2 separate regions of the Homo sapiens genome follow, and region 1 is linked to region 2. The links come from fine-mapping of genetic effects on gene expression. Tissue or cell type: unexposed skin. Region 2 holds a variant in brackets; the other region holds the start of a gene. All regions are shown on one strand. Distances are between the middles of the regions.

Evidence for each region.
Region 1: it holds the start of TMEM132B, and the variant in region 2 is fine-mapped to the expression of TMEM132B in unexposed skin (GTEx, PIP 0.99). The same link has a PIP of 0.9 or more in lung and thyroid.

The regions. Positions count from the first base shown.
Region 1 is chr12:125,182,754-125,191,077 of GRCh38, forward strand. It overlaps TMEM132B (transmembrane protein 132B), which reads left to right and starts at 3,633. Exons shown (of 9, transcript NM_001366854.1): 1 at 3,633-4,113. The coding sequence starts at 4,047. RefSeq lists an enhancer at 2,834-3,367 and a silencer at 3,416-3,625.
Region 2 is chr12:125,162,152-125,170,475 of GRCh38, forward strand. No RefSeq gene overlaps it. Among named protein-coding and RNA genes, the nearest start is that of TMEM132B, 20 kb to the right of the region's middle. The variant T/C (reference allele first, on the strand shown) is at 3,454.

The sequences.
Region 1 (8,324 bases), 21 kb after region 2:
ATTAATATAACCAGGACTGATTGGGCCACTCTCTGTACATATGATGCTGGGTGGTAGCCACTGTTACGAAGAAGAACAAAGCAGGGGAGGGGACAGAGAGTGATATGGATGACTGCAAGTTGCCATAAAGAGGCTCCTTCCTTCCATCATGGGTCCATATGTCCAGGTGTGCAAGTAACTGATTTCTTGAAATTCTTTATTCTTAGTAAATCCTTGATTACCTGTATAAGTGAGCTTGGCTTCTATTTTGAGAGGCCCCTTTCCCCTACCACTCACCTGTGGTGCAAATGCAATCTAAGTCAATTCTGTGTTCCCTGAACATGCCAGAAACATCGATGTGTGCAATGGACAACAAACAGTCCCAGGCTTTGCAAAGAATTTCAACGGGTGGTCACCACGGCAGCAGCTGCCTGCGTGTTGGCGTTCAAGGGCAAAGGGGTCTGTTATTGCCGCTGCCAGTTGGCTGAGGTGGGGAAACCTCTCTGCCTATTCGCCTCCATCTCACCCCTACCCGCACCCCCACCCTGACCTTCCTTCTGCAGCGCCCTCCAGACCTGCAGTTCCAGTTTCAGCCACGAGATGGCAATGTTGCTCTTCGCCGGTAGCCCGGCGGGCGCGTGGGCTGAGCTGCAGCAGAACTGGGGTGCGGGGACGGACCGGGAGCAATCCGTGCTGGAGGCAGTCTCTTGCTGTGCAGGGGGTGGTGCGGCCTGAGGAAGCCTTGCATGGCTATGCTGGGGCTCGAGGCTGGCTGTTAGTCGAGTCGGCCTCCCCACACTTACAGATCCAGGAGAAGGACAATTCCTGGACTCAGTATCCCATCTATACTTAGGGGGAGATTGTAGGCTGTGTAATTCTTACGGTCCTGCCCAGGCTATGAGGCCAGCAGGCTGGGGGCGAGAGTCTAGGTAGGAGTGAGAGGAGAATTCCGCTCAGCCCTGGGGTCTCCTCGTTACTGCCGCCAGCCTCTCAGATTCCCCCCCGCCCTTCAGAATCCAGGGAGGCTTTTTTCCCCTGCTTATTTCCTCCAGAAACACCCCCTTTAGAGATACAGGCTTAGGGGCATGGTTAATATGCAGAAATCCTCATCCAACCACAAGACAGGCTGAGCCAGGCTGGAATTCTCATCCCTACCCCACGTATGAGCTCAGAGAGGATTAGGGGCTTGTCCAGAGTCACACAGCTGGGGCATGGAAAAGCTACCCTCAAAAGGAGATTCCTCTCTTCAGCGTCTGGCTCAACCACCATCAGCATATTTTAATGGGGAAGTGCCCTTCCCCACTGAAAGGTGCTTTCTTGGAGTATGACCAGGTAGTCCTGAGTGTGGGGTTGGGGGGAAGGCAACTGCCATCTGCCATCACACCTGGGACTGTGTGACCACTGGCTTGGGGACTTGCTGGACTGATTCACAACCCTCTCCAAGCACCGCCACTAAAGCCACAGAATGACCCCTTACCCTGCCAGAAAATGACTTTTATCTTTGGCCACAGTCTCCCAGCCTCACTGACCTGCTTCCTGGTCAAACACACGGTTCACCTTGGCACCAGCACCCCGCGGTCACTCCTGCTGTGGCTCTCCCCTGCTGTCGTCCATTCATTTCTGCTTCACCATCCCCTGCAGAGGCCGGCACACAGTAGGTGCTCAGCTCTGCAGATGCTTATGAACAAGTGAACAGGAAAGAGGTGTTGGGGGCAGCCGGGCACAGAGGACCCTAAGAGAGTCCTGACCACGTCTCCAGGATCATCCTCTTATCTGGGGAAAGGGTCACAGAAAGGGGACAGATGGGCCCCTCGCAAGGCCACCCTAAGCCCGAGGAGACCCCCAATCCCGTCGTCCAGCCTGTTGTATGGCTCTCCACACATTGCAGGCCTTGCCAGGGAGCCCAAAGGGGGCTTGGCCTGGGCATGGGCCCCTTGTAAAGGAAGCCGATTAACAGCCACGGGAAAATCCCTTTACGTCTCCTAATTAACCTGGGCTGGAGACTCACCACCTGCCCCTGGCTTTCTTCCTTCTTTTATCTAGGAAGAACTGAGTGCTGCCTCTGCTAATGAGCTTGTCTGTACTAATCAAGCAGGTGCCCTGTCCCCCATCCCCTCTTGGCAGCCGGGAGTGGGGAGGATTGTCCTTCTGATGTGAGCTCTGGGCCCGCAGAGGAAAATCAGATCTATCATAATAATGGCCATGATGATGAGAATGATAATGTTGACACTGACTCCTTTAAATGAGTTCCGACTTCCTAGGTCAGGGGCTTTGTATGTGTTATTGGGGACACCAGGTGATGTGCAATGCCTTCCATCTCTCAGATGAGAAAACTGAGGCTCAGGGAGGAATAAGGGACTCGCCCCAGCTTGCACAGCTAAGGAGCGGCAGAGCTGGGATTCTCAGCCAAGACTCCATGACTCCAGAGCCTTCCCCAAATCTGTCTTTTCATCACCCCACGCTGCCTTATTGACCATTTTCAAAGAGTTTGACCCACTTTTTCATGGAAAACTGAGATGGCAGAGCAAGTGGCTGGTGTGGTGGGGGCTGGGGCGGAGCCAGGACTCCAAGCCACCCTCCCAGGTGGGCAACCCCCCATATCCCCTGTCCTCCCAGCGTGGTGGGGAAGCTTGAAGGCATCTGAGCGCTGCTGGAGGCTCCCCCACATGCTCCCAGCATGACTCATTCATTCGGCTTAGCCCCCCGTGGCTTTGCCCTGGTTGGGGGTGGGGCGCCCAGGAGGATCAGTGGTTTCTGGGATAATAGGTACTGGGGCTCCGTGTGACCTGTGACCTCCCTCCGCACTCTGGCTGCGTCCCTGCCCCTGGATGGAAGAATTCGACCACCTAGTACCCGGCCCTGCGCAACACCTCCGCTCCGTCACTGCCTGACCCTGCGCTGGGAACTCATTCCCGGGACCGCCAGGGAATCTGCCCTTCCCAGGAGAACTCCTGGCTGCCTCCGCGTGCTCCTAGGGCCTGCGCGAAATGGGAAGGCGCATCCTCTAGCCTGGGTAAATAAGGGACCCTGCCTCACCCGGGTGGCCATCCCCAGGCCGCCTTCGCTGTGTTTCAGGTCACCGCACCCAGCCTGCGCACCCCTAGCCCCCATCCCGGTGCCGTGCAGAGGCTCTGCACACAGCCTCGGCCTCCCGGAGGCCCTCCCCTCTCTCCTCTCCCCTCTCCCACAGGCACTCCCTAGCTGTGCCACATTTAACCCGGGACCTCCTGTCCGCGCTCAGTCTTGCAGTCTCTGGCCCCGGCAGACACCACCTCTCCAGAGGTCGCTGCCCCATCCCGGTGACCCTCCGCTGGCCTCCTCACCCCTCGACCTTGGCAACTCCTACCGCTGCGCCCCAAGACGCCGGATCTAGCTGGGCATCCCCTCTCTGCATTGCGCACCCCTCCCGCAGCCCCTGTACCCGCGAGCGCCCGCGACCCCCGGCGGGCTCCCGGAGCCTCCCGGCCGGGCGCCCTCCCCCGAACCGCCGAGCAGTGGCGCGTCCCGCCGCCTACTGGCCGGGCTGCCGCCTGTGCCCCGGCTCCCGGGCGGCCCCTCCCCCGGCCGCGGCCCCGCCCTCCGCTCCTCTCCTCCTCCTCCTCCTCCTACTCCTCCTCCTCCTCCTCCTCCCCCCGGCGCTCGCTCGCTCGCTCACTCTCTCGCTGGCTCGAGGGGCGGCCGGCAGATGGCGATGGCAGAGGCGGCGGCGGCGGCGGCGGCGCGACCGGGATGGGACGGGCGCTGGGGCGCAGGAGCCGCGGCGGCGGCGGCGGCGGGGGCCGCGCAACTCGGGCCAACTGCGGGGCAGCCGGCCAGGGCGCGGGGCGCTGAGCCTCGGCCGCCCCAGCTCCCCAGCCACGCACGGCCGAGCCCAGGAGAGCGCGCAGAGGCGCAGCCGAGGAAGCGCCGCCAGCGCCGGCGCATGCGTCTGGGGAGGAGCGGCGCGCTGGGAGCGAGCCATGCCCGGCGCCCGGGCGTAGCCGCCGGGGGCTGCTCCGGGAGCCGCGGGCCGGGCCGGGCGCGCGAGAGGAGCAGCCCCGCGCCGCACCCACCGCGCGCCGAGGACCATGCCGCCCCCGGGCCGGGCGCCGCCGCTCGGGCTCCTGCTGGCGCTGACTGCGCTCCAGTGCCCAGGTAACGCGTCCCCGGACCCCATCCCCGACCCCGGCCGAGGCGCACAAAGTTGGGTGAACGGGCGGCTACCTCCTTCTCAAGTCCCTGGCAGCGCGCATCTCCCGGACTTGGACAGACCTGGGGAGACCCTGGGAACCCAGGAGCCCCCGGCGCGTTCCCCTTTGCCTAGCGCCTGGGGAGAGCCCGCCTGCCTTCTCCCCCAAACCCTTAGCTTCCTTGCGGATCCTTTCGGGACGCACGGGGGCCACAGACCGGGGCACTCAGCCTCTCGAGGCGGGTGGGGACGCGACTGCAGGAATCGAGCCCCCTCCCCGCCCTGCCTTGGGCCAAATCCCCCCCAGGTCCCAGTTCCTCCAGGGGTTTTGCTGGGCGGGGGCGTCGACGCAGCCCTTCTCCAGTGTCTTGCTGCCCGCGGTCGCACAGTGGTGCGTTCCCGGGACACCTGCGGGCCCCGGAGATGTCTCGGCCGGCGCTGTCTGGCTTGTCCGCAGCCCCTCCCCACGCCCCGCGGCCCTCCCCTGCTTTCACACTGCCCTCCCCAAGCTACCCACCCTCGCCAAATGGCCTCCTCTTGGCCAAAGAGCAGCCCGCTGCGCGCCTCCTGCAAACGCGGTCTACTCCAGCGCCCTGACCCCAAGGCGGGCGGGAGAGGGTAGCCGCGGCCAAGCAGTCCAGGACGCGCCGGGGAGCCTGGAACGCGGTGCTGTCCAGAGCCATTGCCTGGGCACCGGGGAGCTGGACTCCCTGCTGAACCAGCTCAGCTGTCGCCCAATCCTAGTGAGTGGGAAAAGCAAAATAGTCAGGTATTGTCTGTCTTCGCTGGAGTTTGGAAAGCTTTCTACCCACCTTGGTGTGGCTACATGTTGGTTCTATAGAAAGCGTATCCTAAAATGACAATTCCTCCCCTCCCCCCACCCCATGCAAGCAGTGGAGAAAATCCTAAAGGCTCAGATGAACCCCGGGAACAGTCACGAGCAGCCTTCATGTGCTTTTGAAATCTCAGTTCTCCAAACCTTTTAAAATCAAGACCCATGATTTGGGAACAGGTAGCTTTTGCTTTAGAAAATCTCTCCCCATTTCCTTAACAAACAAATCGCACAGACAGGCAGAATGCAGTAGAAAAATACAACTATAACTTTTCGGCTTTCACTGTCTTGGTAAGGTTGCAGTTAGGAGCAAACCTGGCATGTCAACTTGATGTTCGATGTATTTTATTTGCATGGAAAAAGTCAGTGTCGGCTTCCTTTGAGATGCCCTTAAGTGACCCAAAATATTTACCAACACCTTCGACTTGAAGAAAACCTTCTATTGGAGATCTCCGTCAGCGTTCGGCTTTGGTTCAGCCTAGAGAATGGCATTGGGCTTAACGTGGATGAATCTTGCCTGCTTGGCTAAGGAGCAGCTATGATAGCTGTTTTGCTTTCGGCATTCCTCTGCGGTCCACGAGAGGGGCTGCTGCTGGGGCCGAGGCTGTTTTCTCTTAGCTGAAGCCCTGGGACCTGTTTGCAAAAGTGCAGTCCCTCGGACTTGAAAATTGCAGTTTTGTCTCTATTTTGTTTCTCCACGGGGGTCAGCATTTGCCTGGATGTGCTTATAAGTGAATATCGGAAGTCTCTCAGAGAAGCTGCCTGCATAATGCTTTGTAAGAGAATAGGATGGTCCCCCTACCACCCCCCCACCCCCGTCCCCCGCCCTCTCCCCCAGCAACAGAAGAGCCTGTGCCTGGCTCTGGAAGGCCCCATGTTGGGAGGGAAGGTGAGCTCCCACTGAAACCTGCTGCTGGCCGGCTCTTTGCCTGCTCCCCTGCTGTTCTTTGGGAGAGTCTCAGCAGGGCAGCTCGTTCCGACAAATGCCGTCCGGGCAGAGCCCCCAGTGCCATCGCCCCGTCCCTGGAAGCACATGCAAGTCTTTAACTGGTCCCTACCAGGGACATAAAGAGACGACAGTTTGATAACTCTATATTTAGCACTAGTTAGGAGGGATGGCAAAAAAAAAAAAAAAAAAAAAGAAAAAAAGAAATTCCTGAAAGATACTTAGCTGCCTACACTTGGTTTTGAGAGGTTCAGAGGAATTAACCAGAGCTTCCTTCAGGGCTGGTTGGATTTTCTGGGTGATTTCTGCCATGGTTTACCGACCCCCTTTGGCTGAGGCTCTGGAAGAGGGGCTGGAAGAGTTCAGAGGCAAAGATGCGCACACTGTCTCCCATCACACACACGCAGGGACTGGCTTCTTTGTCCCCCACCCCCCTTCCTGCGTGGGTAGCTGCCATGGTAAAGAGTAGGGTGGGTGTACTTCTTTCAGCCTTGCAAGTGCTTAAACATATGGAACTGTACTTGGTAAGAGTCAGCACAAATCCCCCAGCTTAGCGACTAGGGGGCCCCTATTATTCGAGCCACTTTTGTACATGCTGTGGCTTTGCAAATTAGCGGTGCAGTTACAGTCCCTGCTGAGGAAAATGAACGAATCTTGCTTCGTTGACTCATTATGCACGGGGGTCTAGGGTCTATGAAATCAGGGTGGGTGGAGCACCCCCACCTGCCCCACGACAGAGGGGCCACATTGAGTGGCAGGGGGGAGCTTTGGCTTTCAGGGCAGAGGCTCTCTTCCTCCTGCCTGGCACCTTGGTGTGGCATGTGGTATATTTCTCATTACAATAGTGATGGGGGGGGTGCCTGTGTGTGGCGCTGCCCTTCAGAGAGGTGGCATTGGGAAGTGGTGGGGAGTGGTATGCAAATGTCGTCGCCTTCTCCAGTGATTTAATGGCTGCACAGTGGAGGTTCCCAGAGTAAATCATTTCATCCCCTCTCCTCCCACCGGATGCAGGGAGTTGGGGAGGCGTGGGGCTTCTGCATGAGCTACTGCACTCAGAGCCAACAATGAGCACGGTGGTTGCCTTGATCCAAGGGAGCAAAAGAAAACCCTCATTTGTTGGCTGGGAGTCTGGGGTGGGGGTGGTCTCTGGGCCGGCAAAGCCCTTTCAGGGGCCTTGTTCCCAGATGCGTCTCCCAGCTCTATGTGGCTGGGTGGCTCCTTTCTTCTCTTCTGTGTCTCAATTTGAATGGGGATGGAGGGGGTCCATTTCCCCTGAAGCCATGGGACTCAGCAATCACTGTGGCGAGATGGAGGCACCCTGGTACCGTGGGTGACGGGGGTGCTGCCAACTCTTCAGCAGAGTAGGTGGGTTGACTTCTAGAGCAAGAGGGTGCCTCAGAGCCCCTCCTTCAGCAGCCCCCGGCAGATGGGAAGGAGACTTGGGCACAGGGACCGCCTGTTCAGGGTCACACAGTGAATTGGAGGCCTGGGCTCCCCTCTCCTTAACTCCTCACCTATGACTTTCTAACCCTGTACCTGGGAGCTCTTCTGGTAGAGGAGTTCTACCATACAGTCCTTTAGGGAACTGTGACTCCATACAAGGATCCCAAGGTCATGAGAATGACAGCCGCCTGGCCTGGCCAAGACAGCCAGTGTCAAATCCGAAAGTTAGAGAGCAAGTCTTAGTGGTGATGGTGATGGGAAAGGGGTGGTGATGGGGATGGGAAAGGGGTGGTGATGGGAAGAGGTGGTGATGGTGATGGGAAGGGGTGGTGATGGGGATGGGAAAGGGGTGGTGGTGGGAAGGGGTGGTGATGGTGATGGGAAGGGGTGGTGATGGTGATGGGGAAGGGGTGGTGATGGTGATGGTGATGGTGATAGTGATGGTGATAGGGAAGGGGTGATGATGGTGATGATGGGGAAGGGGTGGTGATGGTGATAGTGATGGTGATGGTGATGGGGAAGGGGTGGCGATGGTGATGGGGAAGGGGTGGTGATGGGGAAGGGGTGGTGATGGTGATGGGGAAGGGGTGGTGATGGTGATGGCAAGGGGTGGTGATGGTGATGGGGAAGGGTGGTGATGGGAAGGGGTGGTGATGTTGATGGGAAGGGGTGGTGATGGTGATGGGGAAGGGGTGGTGATGGTGATGGGGAAGGGTGGTGATGGGGAAGGGGTGGTGATGGTGATGGGGAAGGGGTGGTGATGGTGATGGGGAAGGGGTGGTGGTGGTGATGGGGAAGGGGTGGTGATGGTGACGGGGAAGGGGTGGTGATGGGGAAGGGGTGGTGGTGGTGATGGTGATGGTGATGGGGAAGGGGTGGTGATGGTGATGGGAAGGGGTGGTGATGGTGACGGGGAAGGGGTGGTGGTGGTGGTGGGGAAGGGGTGGTGATGGTGA
Region 2 (8,324 bases):
AGCTCGAGTCACAAGGGAGCTTATTGTAAGTGCCACAGCCACAGATCTGGGTTCACAGACACAGGTGTGCATCAAATGGGACCCATCAGTTGGGATACCTGGGTGTGAGCAACAAAGGCGGACTCCAGCTGACTCAAGTGGAAAAGGAATTGATTGAAACAACACCTGGAGAGCTCGCAGAGTTGTTGAGAAACTGCAAAAATAGACTCCAAAGAAGACGTGCAGACAAAGGGAAGCATGCCACGGAATTCGCCTGATGAGGCCGTCGCTACCACTGCTGCCGGGCAATGGGCGACAGAGCCAGAGAACATCAGAGCTGATCATCACCGCCGCCCTGCTGTCCCTGGATATTCGACATTGTTGCTGACACCGGAATAGCTTCTCCCTGTCTCTGCTTCTTCAGATCAATTGCTCCAGATTCCAAGTCTGGTTGGCCGAGCTCTGTCACAAGCTAATACCCTCATTGGAGGGGTGGCAAGGCATTAAGTGCGTGGATGCTGGAGCCAGACTGGGTTTGAATCCAGGCTCTGCCACATATCTGTGTGAGCCTGGACGCCATGCATGCCTCGGCTTGCTCATCTACAAAACGGGGATAGTGTAGTCATGCCTACCTCTGTGGGGGGAGGGGGCTATGTGAACTAAATAACAGAATATATGTGAAGCGTGTAGAAGAGGTGATGAGTAAGCATTTTAAATTTTAGCTATTACCATTATTATTATTATTATTATTATTATTTTGAGATGGAGTCTCGCTCTGTCGCCAGGCTGGAGTGCAGTGGCATGCTCTCGGCTCACTGCAACCTCCGCCTCCTGGGTTCAAGCGATTCTCCTGCCTCAGCCTCTGGAGTAGCTGGGACTATAGGCGGTGCCACCACGCCCAGCTAATTTTTGTATTTTTAGTAGAGACAGGGTTTCGCCATGTTGGCTAGGATGGTCTCGATCTCTTGACCTCGTGATCCGCCCGCCTTGGGCTCCCAAAGTGCTGGGATTACAGGCGTGAGCTACCGTGCCCGGCCTACCATTATTATTTTAAAATTATTTGGCATTTATTGTGCGAGGCAGCTGCTGTGTCTCATGAAGACTCAGACAGTGGGGGATTCTCCAAACGTACGGAGGGGGACACACAAGACAGGTGTCTACCGCAGCAATTCCCGTTCCTTTTTCTACCACTCAGATTTATTTCTATTTTGAGCCCTGATTCCTCCGTGATTTCAAAAAATCCCAGTCAATCTGGAGTCCTATACCTGTTCCCTAGTGTTGTATTTAAAAGATTAAATTGGAACGTCTTGAAGCAGAGCGTTCACTCTCCAGTTTACTGCAGTCTAGTCCACTCCCTATTGCCCTGCACCGGCCCCATTTCACTCACATACGGCAGTTAGCCTGATTCCCATGGACATTTCATTTTATGATTCCAGAACCTAAGAGCTAGGGTCTTTGAAAAACAAAAAGAAGAAGGCTGGGTGCGGTGGCTCACGCCTGTAATCCCAGCACTTTGCAGGGCCGAGGCGGGCAGATCATGAGGTCAGGAGATCGAGACCATCCTGGCTAACATGGTCAAACCCCGTCTCTACTAAAAATATAAAAAAAGCCGCGCATGGTGGCGGGTGCCTGTAGTCCCAGCTACTCGGGAGGCTGAGGCAGGAGAATGGCGTGAACCTGGGAGGCGGAGGTTGCAGTGAGCTGAGATCGTGCCACTTCACTCCAGCCTGGGCAACAGAGTGAGACTCCATCTCAAAAAAAAAAAAAAGAAAAGAAAAAAGAAAAAAGGAAGCTGAGCGTGGTGGCTCACACCTGTAATCCCAGCACTTTGGGGTGCCGAGGCGGGTGGATCATTTGAGGTCAGGAGTTCGAGACCAGCCTGGCCAACATGGTGAAAACCTGTCTCTACTAAAATACAAAAATTAACTGGGCGTGGTGGTACATGCCTGTAATCCCAGCTACCCAGGAGGCTGAGGCAGGAGAATTGCTTGAACCAGGGAGGTGGAGGTTGCAGTGAGCTGAGATCGCACCACTGCACTCCAGCCTGGGCAACACAGCAAAACTCTATTTCAAAAAAAAAAAAAAAAGAAAAAGAAAGAGAAACAGAAGGATGAAACTTAAAGGCTTTTGTATCTGCTTTTGTGAAAGTCACATCCCTGCCCTGAGCCAGTAATCACAGATCTATTATCTGCTAGACAGGGGGAAAGAATACAAAGCCCACATGATACCACCCAGCCTCATGAGGTTATCAGGGTCTCACACGGGGCCCCAGGGCAGGACACACAGCTTGGCCTCCTGGGAACTGGACAGTCAACAGTACCTGCTGTCTCTTTGCTGCTTTCTCTGGGGCTGCTGGTTTCTTGCCTCTCCTGTCGTCTGTGCCTCTGACTCTTTTCCTTCTCCTTGAGGTTAATTCTATGGGCCTGAACCCATTGCTCCACTCCCTTTGTTGTGAAATGAGTCCCCAAGCAATACTCTGGCGGGCTTCTCATCTGTTTCAGTCGCAGGGATCTTGGGACAGTTAGTCTTTGCCAAACCTCCTACAGGCCAGGGCTTGCTGACCACAGGCATGTCGTGCGGTCCTTTATGGCGGGTATGCTCGCACTGCGTCTGGAGGTTGGGCACTGCCTCTTGGCTTCTGCTCTTGGGAGCTCATATCAATGGTGGGCACACCCCCGATCCATCATACCTAGCCTATAAAGGAGAAAGCCACAGACCTTCTAAGGATGCAGGTGTTCCCCCCATGAATGTATTTCTCAGCTCCTTCATAGAGAAAGCATTTTCTGGGGTCTCCTGGGGGATGTAGTTGGTGGGTGGGTGTGCAGGTTGCCATGGTAAATCCTTTCAACACTCCAATCTCCCTAAGCCTTTGGACTCCCTCCTCCATAGCATGCCAGGGTAGCTCTGGCATCTCTGCTCACTAAACTTAGGCCACCATGGAGTCCTAGTTCCAGCCACCAACCAAGTAAGCTTTGAGAGCCACCTCCAGCTAAGGAAACTAACCCATGATATCCAAAATCTTAGTGCACCTCGGTCAGTGAGTTCAGTCTGCTCCTGTTCTTCTGCCTGCCTTGGTCTGACACCCTCACATACTCCTTAGGTTTCTGCCAATATATATTGGCAAAATCGTGCAGTTCTCTTGGTGTAAAAGCTATCTCATTTGAGGCCATAGTGGGTACTAAAAATCTAAGATTCTACTTATGAGTCTGGTGCCAACAGGTAGTAGTTGTGGTGGGTCTGAAGGAGAATGGGCATCTCCTCACGTGAGATTGTCATACAGTTTTCAAGAAAAGGACAGCTAGTCTCCTTAGACACAACAGAGCAAGCTCCTTCCTTTGGCAACAGAGGCTCAGAGTGACTTGTGGGTTCAAGATTCTCAGTTTCATCTGAGTCCCACCAGATGTCCCCATTCTAAGCTTCAGCATCCCTTTTAATGTCCTACCTTTTTTTTTTTTTTTTGAGATGGAGTCTTGC[T/C]CTATGGCCTAGATTAGAGTGCAATGGCATGATCTCGGCTCATTGCAACCTCTGCCTCCCAGGTTCAAGCGATTCTCCTGCCTCAGCCTCCCAAGTAGCTGGGATTACAGGCACCCACCACCACACCTGGCTAAATTTTGTATTTTTAGTAGAGATGGGGTTTCGCCATGTTGGCCAGGCTGGTCTCAAACTCCTGACCTCAGGTGATCCACCTGCCTTGGTCTCCCAAAGTGCTGGGTTTACAGGCCTGAGCCACTGCGCCTGGCCTTAATGTCCTACCTTTCACATGAGAAGTGTGGTGAGGCTGTGAATCCACCTAGTGTAATTCCATAACCCACACAATTCAATTGTGTTTTTTATTTTCAGTAGCACTAGCCCTGGCTAATGTAAATAAGCCAGGCTACAATAAATAAGAATTTTCACTGAGGGCATCGGGGAAGCTCTTTGGCCCTAGGACTGTGCTTTGATATGAGTTAAGGGACCTGAGATTCTATTTTATTTTCCTGTAGATGCTCCAGTGCACACAGAAGCATCCATCCCACACTGCAGCCCTTGAGGGCATCGTCACGGGCATCATGTCAAGTGCCTCAGCCACCTACCTTCCCAAGGCATGTGCTTCAGTCAGCACTTTGTCAGAATCAACCACAGGTGATGGTGTGGCTGATTCGCTGTGATGGCACTGCATGCTATGGGTCACTGGTGTCCCATTTCACATGGTCAAAATCCCAGCATGGCACTCAACTCCAAAGGCATGACGAGTCTCCAACTCCCACTCCTGGAGGTCTGTATGTATCTAGAACCACTTTCTTAACTAGTTCTGTATCAGCCAGGGTCCAATCAGGAGACCCTGACTGATTCTACATTGGTAATTTGAACTGGGACAGTCCAATATATAGAATTATTGCTGGGCATGGTGGCTCACACATGTAATCCCAGCACTTTGGGAGGCCAAGGCGGGAGGATCACTTGAAGCCAGGAGTTTGAGACCAGCTTGGGTCTCTACAAAAAATAAAAAAACAGTTGGGCATGGTGATGCGTGCCTGTAGTCTCAGATACTTGGGAATCTGAGGTGGGAGAATCGCTTGAGCCTAGGAGACTGAGGATGCAGTTAGTTATGATAGCACCACTGCACTCCAGCCTGGGTGACAGAGCAAGACCCTGTCTCAAAAAAAAAAAAAAAAAAAAGACGACAGGGCTAGGTGTGGTGGCTCACACCTGTAATCCCAGCACTTTGGGAGGCCGAGGCAGGTGAATCACCTGAGGTCAGGAGTTTGAGACCAGCCTGGCCAGCATGGCAAAACCTCGTCTCTACTAAAAATACAAAAATTAGCTGGGCGTAGTGGCACCTGTCTGTAGTCCCAGCTACTGGGGAGGCTGAGGCAGGAGAATTGCTTGAACCTGGGAGGCGGAGATTGCAGCGAGCCGAGATAGCACCATTGCACTCCAGCCTGTGTGACAAAGAGAGACTGTCACACACACATACACACACACACACACACACACACAAAAGACAAGACAACAAAAAAAGAATTATTAACTAGTAAGATGTGCTTAACTTACTAATGGAGTCAAAGAGGACTCTAAGGGGTCTAGAAATATTAGGTATAAAAAAGTTACTACTGCCAGGTGTGGTGGCTCACACCTGCAATCCCAACACTTTGGGAGGCCGAGGCGGGTGGATCACAAGGTCAGGAGTTCGAGACCAGCCTGGCCAACATGGTGAAACCCCGTCTCTACTAAAAATATGAAAACTAGCTGAGTATGGTGGCACATGCCTGTAGTCCCAGCTACTCGGGGGGTTGAGGCAGGAGAATCGCTTGAACCTGGGAGGCAGAGGTTTCGGTGAGCCGAGATTGTACCACTGCGCTCTAGCCTGGGCAACAGAGGGAGACTCTGTCTCAAAAAAAAAAAAAAGTTATTACTCCCTCTAGACTGAGGGGAAATGGAAAGTGAAGAATATAGAACTATTCTAGTCCCTGAGACCAAGAACCAGCCCTCTCCGAAGAGAATGTAGCTACTACAAGAACATGCAGTTTGCTGGATGAGGACACTGTCAGACGACGAAGCCTGCAGCTAGTCCATATACACCATCTGCTATTGCCAGAGCATGTGAGTGGCCACAGCTGTTCTCTAAGAAATGCCCACCAGGTGGGGAGAGCATGGTTCAAGGGCAGAGTCAAAGGTGGTTGGTTGAAGCTGCTTGCTGGGTGGGGCGAGGATGGCCTGAGGGGATGGCTGGAGCTCCTGCAGAAGTGGCCACTGGGTGGGGACAGTGTAGCTGAGGGTCCCTCAAGGCTACTGTGGAAATGGCCACCAAGTGAGGAGAGCATGGCCTGAGAGGGTCACAGAAGCTGGCCTGAGAGCTGCTGGTAGAAGAGCTGCTTGCAGTAGGAGAGGAGGACAGGAACCCAGAGTGGATTGGCTCTCCTGCTGTATAGCTGCACAGTGTAACCCATGCCTTCTACGGACAAAGCCGAACATTCTACCAGCTGGCAAAGGAGAAATGTTTCCAGGGGTCAGCTCCAGGATCACCAAACATGGCAAAGAAGGATGGGTTTGGAGCCGAGTGACAATAAATTGACAAGTGGAACAGGAAGAAGGACCCAAGAGGCTGGGAGGAGAGGTTTGGGGAGAGTTTGGAGAAATTAGAGGAGGTATGGAGTGTGAAGGACATGGATCAGGGAGGGGAGGAGAATTTTAAGAAATATTTCTGTGGACCATGTGTTGCCTTTATAGCATTCAAGAAATGCAAATAAGGGGCCGGGCGCGGTGGCTCAGGCCTGTAATCCCAGCACTTTGGGAGGCCGAGGCGGGCGGATCACGAGGTCAGGAGATCGAGACCATCCTGGCTAACACAGTGAAACCCCGTCTCTACTAAAAATACAAAAAATTAGCCGGGCATGGTGGCAGGCGCCTTTGGTCCCAGCTACTCGGGAGGCTAAGGCAGGAGAATGGCGTGAACCCGGGAGGCGGAGGTTGCAGTGAGTCAAGATCGCACCACTGCACTCTAGCCTGGGCGACAGAGCAAGACCCCATCTCAAAAAAAAAAAAAAATGCAAATAAGGACCGTAAGTTACGTTGGAGTTCCCTTTTGGCTGAGGGACAGTGTTCATTGACCACAACACTACTTCGAGACTGGAATACTTGGGTCCTGGGTTTCTAAGTGGGTTATGACAGTTTTCTCTTAGCCTAAAGCAGAAATTTACAACGAAAGTTTTTCTTTTTAGGTTTATTAGAGCTGCCCCAGGGATCTTGTTTTATATTATGGGTTCTTGTCTCTCTGTAAGTTGCATTGGAAATTTGGAAGTCCAGGTTTTAGTATTTATTTATTTATTGAGACGAAATCTTGCTCTGCCACCCAGGCTGGGGTGCAGTGGCATGATATAGCTCACAGCAGCCTTAACCTCTTGGGCTCAAGTGATCCTTCTGCCTCAGCCTCATAGGTAGCTGGGACCACAAGCATGCACCATCATGCCCAGCTAATTTTTATATATTTTTTGTAAAGATGGGGTCTCACTATATTGTCCAGACTGGTCTTGAATTCCTGGGCTCAAGTTTTCCTCCCACCTTGGCCTCCCAAAGTGCCGGGATAACAGGCGTGAATGCCTGTGCCTGGCCCAGGTTTTAGTTCTGAGTTTCAAGTTTCATTGCATGGTGTGATGCTGGGGCAGGTCACTTAATCTCTCTGAATCTCAGATTTTTTGCCTAACGTGGGGGATATAAAGTCTGCCCATGCAAACTCTCAGGGGATATTGCCATGATGAGGTTGGATAATGGGTATGCAATTGCTTTGGGCAAAAGACAGTTTTCATTCACTTAAGCGAAGCTGTTTGTACCCATACAGTCAGCATATTAGCAAGAAATGTTTTTGCTTGCAAACACCAGGAAACCCCACCACTGTGGAGTAGTTAGGATTTATTTTTCTCATATACCAAGAATTCTAGAGGTGGTTATTTATGGGTAATGATAAAGCTGCTTAGTGACATAAGGACCAAAAATCTCTGTGATTCTCTTGCCCTTCTCCTCATGGTCACAAAATGATTGCTGTGACTCCAGCCATCAAGGCTACATTTAAGCAGGAAAAAGGGATAGGTCCTGGTCAGGCACCGCTGTTCTTTTTTTAGGTAGCCTTGCTGGCTGTCTGCCAGGGCTGCTTTTAGCTCCTAGAGGCCCCCTACGTGTCTTCTCATTGGGCTCCTCCATCTTCAGAGCCAGCAGCAGAGATCCCCAGATGATCTCCAGACTGTTTTATTTCATCTCACGGGACAGAAGTAGAACTGCAAGAGAGTCTGCGGCAGGGGGTATTTAGCTTTCCCACCCCTTCTAGAGCGAGGAGGCAAGGGAGAAAGAAAGAAGTTGGGAACGGGTGTTGGATTAGACAGCTGACAGTGTCGGGAATAGCTGGCAAGTTCTAGATGGCAGCAGCTGAGACTGTTGGGATGGCGGGGAAGCAGCCGCTGGAGGATTTTGACTCCCACCCTTGTAACTGCTGCTCCTGTGTATCTGAGCCCTTTCATGGGGCCTGGCTGCATCTGAATAGCGAACATTTCACTTCGGAGGTGGAATTATATTAAAAATCAGATGCTTGTCATTATGCAAATGGATGTCTCACTATTGCTTAGGATTTTCATTTTTCTATGAATTATTCCTTTTTTCAGTGCTTTTTTTATTCCCCATGGAAGAAATAAAAACAACCACTGGCTGATCAAAGGAATTTTCCAGTCATTCAGTCAACAGATATTTCCTGAGTGTCTGTGCTGGGCCAGGAACTGTTCTAGTCTCAGGGAAATAGTGATGAAAAGACAGTTTCTGCAGCAGTAGAGCTTGTATTCCAGGGGAGGAAATAAGCCATCAAGTGAATTAATAAATCA